Regions from separate parts of the Homo sapiens genome. Here region 2 is linked to region 1. The links come from fine-mapping of genetic effects on gene expression. A gene starts in region 1. The other region holds a variant in brackets. All regions are shown on one strand. Distances are between the middles of the regions.

What was found.
Region 2: its variant is fine-mapped to the expression of SP110 in whole blood (TOPMed, PIP above 0.99).

The regions. Positions count from the first base shown.
Region 1 is chr2:230,217,990-230,222,514 of GRCh38, forward strand. It overlaps SP110 (SP110 nuclear body protein), which reads right to left and starts at 1,995. Exons shown (of 19, transcript NM_080424.4): 1 at 1,885-1,995. It also overlaps a transcript of SP140 not described here. RefSeq lists an enhancer at 1,724-2,203 and a silencer at 1,921-2,107.
Region 2 is chr2:230,170,358-230,174,357 of GRCh38, forward strand. It overlaps SP110 (SP110 nuclear body protein), which reads right to left. Exons shown (of 19, transcript NM_080424.4): 15 at 2,487-2,602; 16 at 1,709-1,817; 17 at 1,339-1,410; 18 at 264-404. Among named protein-coding and RNA genes, the nearest start is that of SP110, 48 kb to the right of the region's middle. The variant C/T (reference allele first, on the strand shown) is at 2,410.

The DNA of each region.
Region 1 (4,525 bases):
ACCATTTCATGTCTCAGACATGCGCCTTTTCCCATGCCCATGCAGCATGTATTAAAGATTGGCCATTTATGGACTGTGAGGAGATATCAATAGGTTATAATGGGAAGAAAGTTTACAAATGACATTCTTGACAAATTGTCAAGAAAAGGAAAAGCACTAACAAAACATTCAATCAACTTGACAGTTTTTAACAAACAGAACAAACATGGATTCCACTTTTCCAACTTCATTTTGTGTTGAACAGAAAAGTAAATCGTAATTAACAACTGTTTACAGGGATTTAATCCCAGTGGCAGATTAAGCACCCTAGTCTCTTTCTCCTCATTCCCCAATTTTTTTAACTTGGCAGAAAAAAATACTCATGAAAAGAATAATCCGCAATCGCATAGGAAAACAAGAAAAGATGCCATTGAGAGTCTGTGGTGGTAAAGAAGTCTTGGAAGATAGAGAACAGATAGGAGAGAAATCTACTATCCACAATATGCACAGGGGAAGGAGATAGTGCAAAGATCAGTGCAAAGTCAGAGAAAGGCAGAGTAAACATATACTAAGAAGAGGAAGGGGTCTTGGAGGCTCCTTTTAGAACAATTCATTATACAGCAGCGCTCAGAACAGGAAGTCTAGAGCTTCCTCATTCTTCATCTGTCATGAGTCCCAAAGATGAAAGGGAGGCACAGAGAGGTTTAGTAACTCACCCAAGGTATTCAGTGGCAAAGCAGAGCTTGTCTGACTCTAAAGCCCTGTTTCTTTCTATGCAAGATACTACATCTCATATATGACTGTTCAGATTTTTATTATGTAAAGAGATTTTGCAAACGAATAAGCAAAAGACAAACATCCAACTAGAAAATAAAAAAGCAAAATACATGAACAGAGAGTGATAAAAGAATAAGCCAAATGTGCAATGAATAATACGATAAGCATGTTAACTAGCTAGTAGAAAGCATAAAGAAGGCCAGGCATGGTGGCTCATGCCTGTAATCCCAGCACTTTGGGAGGTTGAGGTGGGCGGATCAGCTGAGGTCAGGAGTTCGAGACCAGCCTGGCCAACATGGTGAAACCCTGTCTCTACTAAAAATACAAAAATTAGCTGGGCGTGGTGGTGCACATCTGTAGTCCCAGTTACTCAGGAGGCTGAGGCAGGAGAATCGCTTGAACCTGGGAGGTGGAGGTTGCAGTGATCTGAGATGGTGCCATTGCACTCCAGCCTGGGTGACAGAGCGAGACTCCGTCTCAGAAAACAACAACAACAAACAACCAAAAAAAGTGTAAATGAAGACAATTTGATAACATATTTGTCTATCAAATTGGCCAAGATAGAAAATAATAGTAATAATCTCAGACACTGTGAGTGGGAAGGTCAACAGGTCCAAATGTTCTGAAGGCTGATTTAGTAATCAGTGTCAAATGTCCTAAAACATGTGCTCCTTTGAATTTCCACTTCTAATAATTTATTTCAAGGAAATAATCATGTATTTAGAGAAAATATATAAAAAGTTCATGATACACTAGAGACGAAATTAAATGTACTCTCATTTTTTTCTTTTCCACCAGCTTCCCAAGTACCTCTAGTCATTTACACAATGGATAACAGATGAGCCGCCTATTGCGGGCACTGAAGGATCAGAGCTTAGGTGAGGGTAGAGGGCAAATCTCGGCTCCATTCACAATAACAGGCTGGACTCTGGCGAAAAAAAGAGGTGTCAGTGTTCCCTCCATGTGCCCCCTTTTAACAGTCTCCTAATAAGTACCACATGTCTGAGCTCTGAGAGAGCCTCAGAGTTTAAATAGTTGAACTCCACCCTGCAGCTGCTGCCGCGAAGTTAACTCTAAGAGCTGCAGTCACCAAGAGCGAAGAATAAAGCAGCAAAGACAGAAACTCACCTGGACTTTGAGTTTGTCGTTCCTGCCCCTTTCCAGGGGCTGGGACAGGGATCACTCCTCAAGATTGGGAGAGTTACAGGGAGATGCTAGCAGGCAAAACAGGAAGTCTGTGCTTTGACAAACGCAGTAAGGGGCCGGGCTTCCGAGAAAAGAAAAGTGAAAGTTTTCGGAGTTTGCCAAGCCGGAAGCTGAAGGCAGGTCGGTGCCTGCAGCCTCTCTCCACCTCCTCATGGGCACTTGTGAGGCTCCCAGGACGTCTTGGCAGTTGGGGTTTGGGGGAGGGCGTGTTGCCAGTTGGGATCAGCCCAGAGAGGGAGGTATGGGAGGAGGAGGCATAAGGGTACAGCCCCAGCGGCAATAGGAACTGGGAACTCAGCGTCCAAATGCTTCCCTAACCACATCTATTTTCCCATGACTTGTCCTCATTCTGTACATTTTAGGTTGATGAAAATGTTCTCAAACTGGATTGTGGTGATGTTTACATAACTGAATGAATTCACTGGAATTTATCCAGTGTGTTATCAAACTCTAACAACACACAAAAAAACAAAGAGAATGTGCCAGAAATGCCTAGAACTTGTCAGGATAAGATTATTACAGGAAGAAATTGAAATGAAAGGGAACCTGCACATGAACTGGAATTGTGCAGAGGCAGGCAGACCTCCAGGCAGAAAAATGGCTGAGAGCTGGGCAGGTAGTTGGGAGCCAGGAGTCTGAGGCAGAACTGGGACCTGCTGATTCCAGAGAGCAGTAACTCAAGGGCTGGCAGGGACACCCCTTCTCATGCCCCTTTTAAAGATCCCTAATGTACATTGACATGTGGGGCCTATGAAAAATCCTAAACTATTGGCCAGGCACAGTGGCTCATGCCTATAATCCCAGGACTTTAGGAGGCCAAGATGGGAGGATTGCTTGAGCCTAGGAGTTTGAGACCAGTCTGGGCAACATAGTGAGACCCCATCTCTACAAAAAATAAAAAAATAAAAAATTAACTGAGTGTGGTGGCATGCACCTTGTAGTCCTAGTTAGTGAGGAGGCTGAGGCTGGAGACTTGCTTGAGCCCAGGAGTTCAAGGCTGCGGTGAGCTATGATTGCACCACTGCACTATAGAAATCTGTGTAACTTTGGGCCAGGCTCGGTGGCTCACGCCTGTAATCCCAGCACTTTGGGAGGCTGAGATGGGTGGATCACAAGGTCAGGAGTTTGAGACCATCCTGGCCAACATGGTGAAACCCCATCTCTACTAAAAATACAAAAATTAGCCAGATGTGGTGGCGGGAACCTGTAATCCCAGCTACTTGGGAGGCTGAGGCAGGAGAATTGCTTGAACCCAGGAGGTGGAGGTTGCAGTGAGCCGAGATCGCACCACTGCACTCCAGCCTGGGTGACAGAGCAAGACTCCATCTCGAAAAAAAAAAAAAAAAAGAATTCTATGTAACTTTGATTAAATCAATAATTCTCAAATGTATTTGACCCACAAGTTCCCCTACCAGGACATCCACAAACTCCTCAGATAAAAGATGGGAGACATGGATCTAAAGTTTAAGAAGCTTTGAAACCAAGGCTAACTGCATAAGAGCAAGCCCTTCTATGCAGGCACAAACAGCATATCCCACCCTAGTATGTACAGAATAGCAGACCCGGCCTTGCGGGTAATGGCTGTGGGTGAAACAGAGGCATGGAAGCCACAGCCAGGAAAAATTCAATGCTAACAGCTGAGGAGAGGGTGCATTGATGCCTCAGCATGCAGTAACATACAGCGCTGTGATGCAGGGGATGGCGGTGGTAAAGGAATTAAGGTTATTTTATGCAAATGTCACATGTCACTTACCTGAAGCCCCTCCCCATCACCTGGAAAGCCCCTTCATGGGCATCTGAGGATCCTGGCAGCAAGAACTTCTTCCTTTAGATCTATTCAGAGATACACCAGGCAAATGCAAAACAAACAAACAAAAGTAAAGCAGGAGTGGGAAAATAAAGTCAATGTCAAATCAGGCAAAAATTGTTACATGAAAAAAAGACAGCTGCGAATGAGGATGAAAGATGTTTATTCTAAGCCATATATGCTTGGCTGGGCACAGTGGCTCAGGCCTGTAGCTTAGCTAGCACTTTGGGAGGCTGAGGCAGGCAGATCACTTGAGGCCAGGAATTCAAGACCAGCCTTGCCAACATGGCAAAATCCCGTCTCTACTAAAAACACAAAAAAATTAGCTGGGCGTGGTGGCACATGCCTGTAATCCGAGCTACTCGGGAGGCTGAGGCATGAGAATCGCTTGAACTCAGGAGCTGGAGGTTGCAGTGAGCTGAGACTGCGCCACAGCAGTTCAGCCTGAGCAACAGAGTGAGATCCCGCCTCAAAAAAAAAAAAAAAAAAATGCATGCTTGAGAACATGGTAATAATGGGAAAACGTCACCTGTTAATTCACATGCTAGTGATTATGTACTGAGATAAATTATACATAATTCTTTTTAGCTCCATTTTATTGAGGTATAAAATTTATTCATTGTAATGTACATTTTACCAAATGTAGTTACTACACCAGTCAAGATGTAGACCATTTCTAGGCCTGGAGAGTCGCTTGTGCCTATAATCCCAGCATTCTGGGAGGTCAAAGCAGGAGGATCGCTTGAGCCCAGGTGT
Region 2 (4,000 bases), 48 kb before region 1:
TGGGAGCGAGCTGCCGATCTGGGAACAGAGCATGGTTTTTTTCAGCTTCTGTTCCAGAGATCCCTCCCCTGTCCTGCTTGCTGTTCTTTTTGCCACTCACTCCTTGCCTCCAGGAATGCCGAGGTGGTTTTTTTTCTGTAATCCTTGTCTTGTTTGAGCTCTCCCCAGGCTGAAACTGAGTGTAATACTTGCAAAATTCTGCTGTCCCAGAAATTAGGGGAAAGTAGAAAAGACGCAAAAAGGAAGCAGGAAATGCTCTTTACCTTGTAAAATGTTTTATGGTTGCGAAACATCAGGCGCATGTCTCGCACAAACCATGCCACCGTGTACATTTCCGTAATCAGCCTTTCCTTAACCAGGTCCAACCACATTGCTTCCTGAAAGGGCTCACCGTAATCTCGAATCTTGGGGACAAAGCCACCAGAGGTGACGTTAGCACAGCTGTCATCACTGGAATGGATCCAACTTAAATACAATCCAAGCCTTCATTTCCAGGGTCATAATGATAATACCATTTGACCTCTTTAAGCCAGCTATTGTTCTAGGCACTAGATAAACTAAATTCTAAGCCAAGTATATGAATATGTAATCTCCACATTTATGGGTACCATAAATAATAATGCCCATTTCATAGATGAGGAAACCGAGGGATGGAGAGGTCAAGGAACCTACCCAAGATGTCTCAGCAAGAAAGTGGTAGAGCTGAGATGGGAACCCACACAGTTTGGCATCTATGACTCTTTTTTTTCTTTTGAGATGGAGTCTTGCTTTGTCACCCAGGCTGGAGTGCAGTGGTGCGATCTTGGCTCACCGCAACCTCTGCTTCCTGGGTTCAAGCGATTCTCCTGCCTCAGCCTCCTGAGTAGCTGGGATTAGAGGTGCCTGCCACCATGCCTGGCTAATTTTGTATTTTTAGTAGAGATGGGGTTTTGCCATGTTGGCCAAGCTGGTCTCAAACTCCTGACTTCAAGTGATCTGCCCGCCTTGGCCTCCCAAAGTGCTGGGATTACAGGCGTGAGCCGCTGAGCCCAGCTGGCATCTGTGACTCTTAATCTCTAGTAGGAAAGACATTCTTCCTAAAGAGAAGATGAAACAGATACACAGGAGGAGAAGCAACTTGCCCGGTATCCCAGAGCCCGTGAGCAGTGGGGTGGAGTTTGAACCAGGTAGTCCCTCTCCAGAGTGTGCAGCAAAATCCCTGCTGCCCCGCTCCACTGCTGCCACGCTGCCCTTCTCTTCTGTTCTCCAGCTTCCTGAGCAAACTGCAGCACCTGCCAGATCAGCCCCCAAATTTCTCCAAATGCATTTTATGCAAGAGAACCGTAAAATGTGACTTACATTAAATGGGATGCCCGTAAAAAAGGAGCTTTGTGGATGACAGTAGGCCTTCAAGAGGAGGAACTCACATTTCTGTAAAATGTGAAGAGGGCTTGAAAGTGAAATGCAGCTTAGAAACAGTGAAGCCAGGCGAGTGTCTAGACATGCACACGGATGGGGCAGCCAAGCCCAGTCAGCATTCCAGCCATGCTTCCCAAGGCGCACAGGGTGTGTGGGATTTTGTTTAGACTCTGAGTTTGGGCATTAAATCGTCATCCTTTAAAGGGAGACATTGAAGGCTCCCTTTGGTACATTGCCCTGACCCTGTGCCTGTTTGTGCTTCTCGTGTGAGAAGGGAAAAGTATAGGTTTGGGGTTTGCATCCAACTCACCAGCTGGTCCTGAGGCTGCATCTGCCTCTCCAGGGTCTTAGATACATGATGGCACTGTTGGCTTCCTGAAGACCTCTTCATCCTGCAGAAGGTGCAACTCCACAGCATCCTGAGAGGTTGGACACAAGGTGAGCAGAGGGCAAAGCCCCTGGAAATGGCCACCATTCCTGTGGCTGCCACTGTCTTCCCTCAGGAAGGATGGGCTCAGCCATGAGGGTGGGACACCTCCCAGAGTGTCCAAGATCCCCACATGGGGTCTCCAGCATTGGCCCTTCCCTCGCATCAGTGGTAGCGGCAGGCGGGCAGCCTGAGGAAGGTGGTGTCACTGTTAAGTGTGGGCTCTCTTTTCCCTGTCTGAGCTGCTGGGAGCACAAAGGAACCCTGCCTGCCAGGCTTGAGTGTCAGAATCTGGGCTTTCACCTGCAGGGACCTCAGGCCTCCATCAGCCAGGTGAGACTATGGTGAAATGTGTGACAAGCCGTGCTTCCTGTCTTTCCTCAACAGGCACAGAACATAAGCTGGCTTTTCCCGTCCCCTCCTCCTTTTGGACAGGAGTCCCTGCTGTCCAGGGAATAGCATACTAGGAAAGGGCACTTCCAGGGGCAGAAGCAGTGTGGGGCCAAGAGGCTCACTGGCAGTCTCAGAGACCCAGAGAGGCCCAGAGTCTCTGGCACCAGACTGCTCTGCGTCACACCCTCGTC[C/T]CCGACGCTCACAGGTCCTGCCCTTTCCATCTGGAGGTGAGTGCTGTGTGCCCGAGGCGGGGCTGCATCCCACTCACCTCTTGGCTTCCACAGGGGGGATGTGACAGTCCTCATGGAAGACTCGTGGACAAGTACCGCAGCAGAGAAGTTGTCCCCCTTGACAGCACACCTCGCATTCATCCGAGTTTTTCCGCTGCAAGGGCAGATAACGTGGGCACCGCTAGGACCATGGAGACCCACGAATGCTGACCCTGTGGGGTTCTAGAACACATCATTTTTGTGTGTGCCAGAGTGGATATCCAAACCCAATTTTTGATGGGGGGAGCTGATGCCACCTCCCTGGGGGAAATTGCAAGACAAATGGCACAACAAGCAGAGAGTCTGGGTGGTGACCGCCGCCACCAGGACTTTTCTTCTCTGGCTGTGGCTTGCCAACAGGTTCTGCTGCGTTTTGAGCTGTGCTGCTGCCTGCTGGCAAGCTTGTGCTTTGAGCTGGGCCACTCTGGGCGCATTTGCTGAGCCCACCAGGCCTCTATTAATAGATCTGACTGACCAAAGTAAGAAATGATGATAACTGGCATTTGGGTGCAGGAGTATGGGAACTGTTGTTCCTGGTGCCTTGCCTAACTGCCCCATGGTCGTAACATAACATGGCCCTAAAATGTTCCACAGTGGGCATGGATGCTATGACCCAGTAAATAACACATTAAAATAATTAAAATTAAGTTACCTTTGGCACTTACAATTGGCTTTACAAAATGGAACTCTATGGACCTTCTCTGTTAAAATATTTAATACTGATCAATATGAATTAAAACACGGCTTTCAAGGATTGAAACTCATTATGGAAGATCTATTTAGAGAAAGGGTGATTATCCCCACTGTTTCTCCATTTAACAGCCCAATTTGGTCTGTTCTTAGGCTTGGAAAGAATGAATGGTGCCTCTCGGTGAATTACTACAACCTGAATCCTGTGACCCCACCTGTGATGGCCCAATGTTATTGAAATTACTGACTCCATCCACTTAGCAAGTGGTAAATACTCTGCAGGCATAGATTTGACTAATGTGTTCTGTTCAGCGCCTATTTCAACAGATCTCAGCTGCAGGTTGCTTTCACCCCCGAAGGGACACAATAGACCGTTATCTGGCTACCACGGGGTACCTCGACAGTTCTGCCACCATACACAATCTTTGCAGGCAGGATTTGAACTGCATCTGACATTCTCTAGGAGTACAGGTGTAACATCACCCTGAAGACACCCTTCTTTCAGCAAATTCATTTGACACACTCAGGACATTACTCACAAAGAACTCATAGAAAAGGATGGGGTTTGTGTTTCCACATGGTGGGATTAAACTAAAACAAAAAAGTATGGGCCACTGCCCCAGGCATAGTACAGGGATCCACACCAATTTCTGGCCATTGTCTGGTCAGTTGAGGGATGCTCCATCCCTGACACTGTCAAAAAATAATTATTGACCCTCTGAGTACTCACAGTGTTCTAATAAACCTCCCAGCATCCTTCAGGCCTCTTGAGTTCAAGGAAACACATCCTTCATTTGTAGATTTTAGGTAAGCCCATTTACGC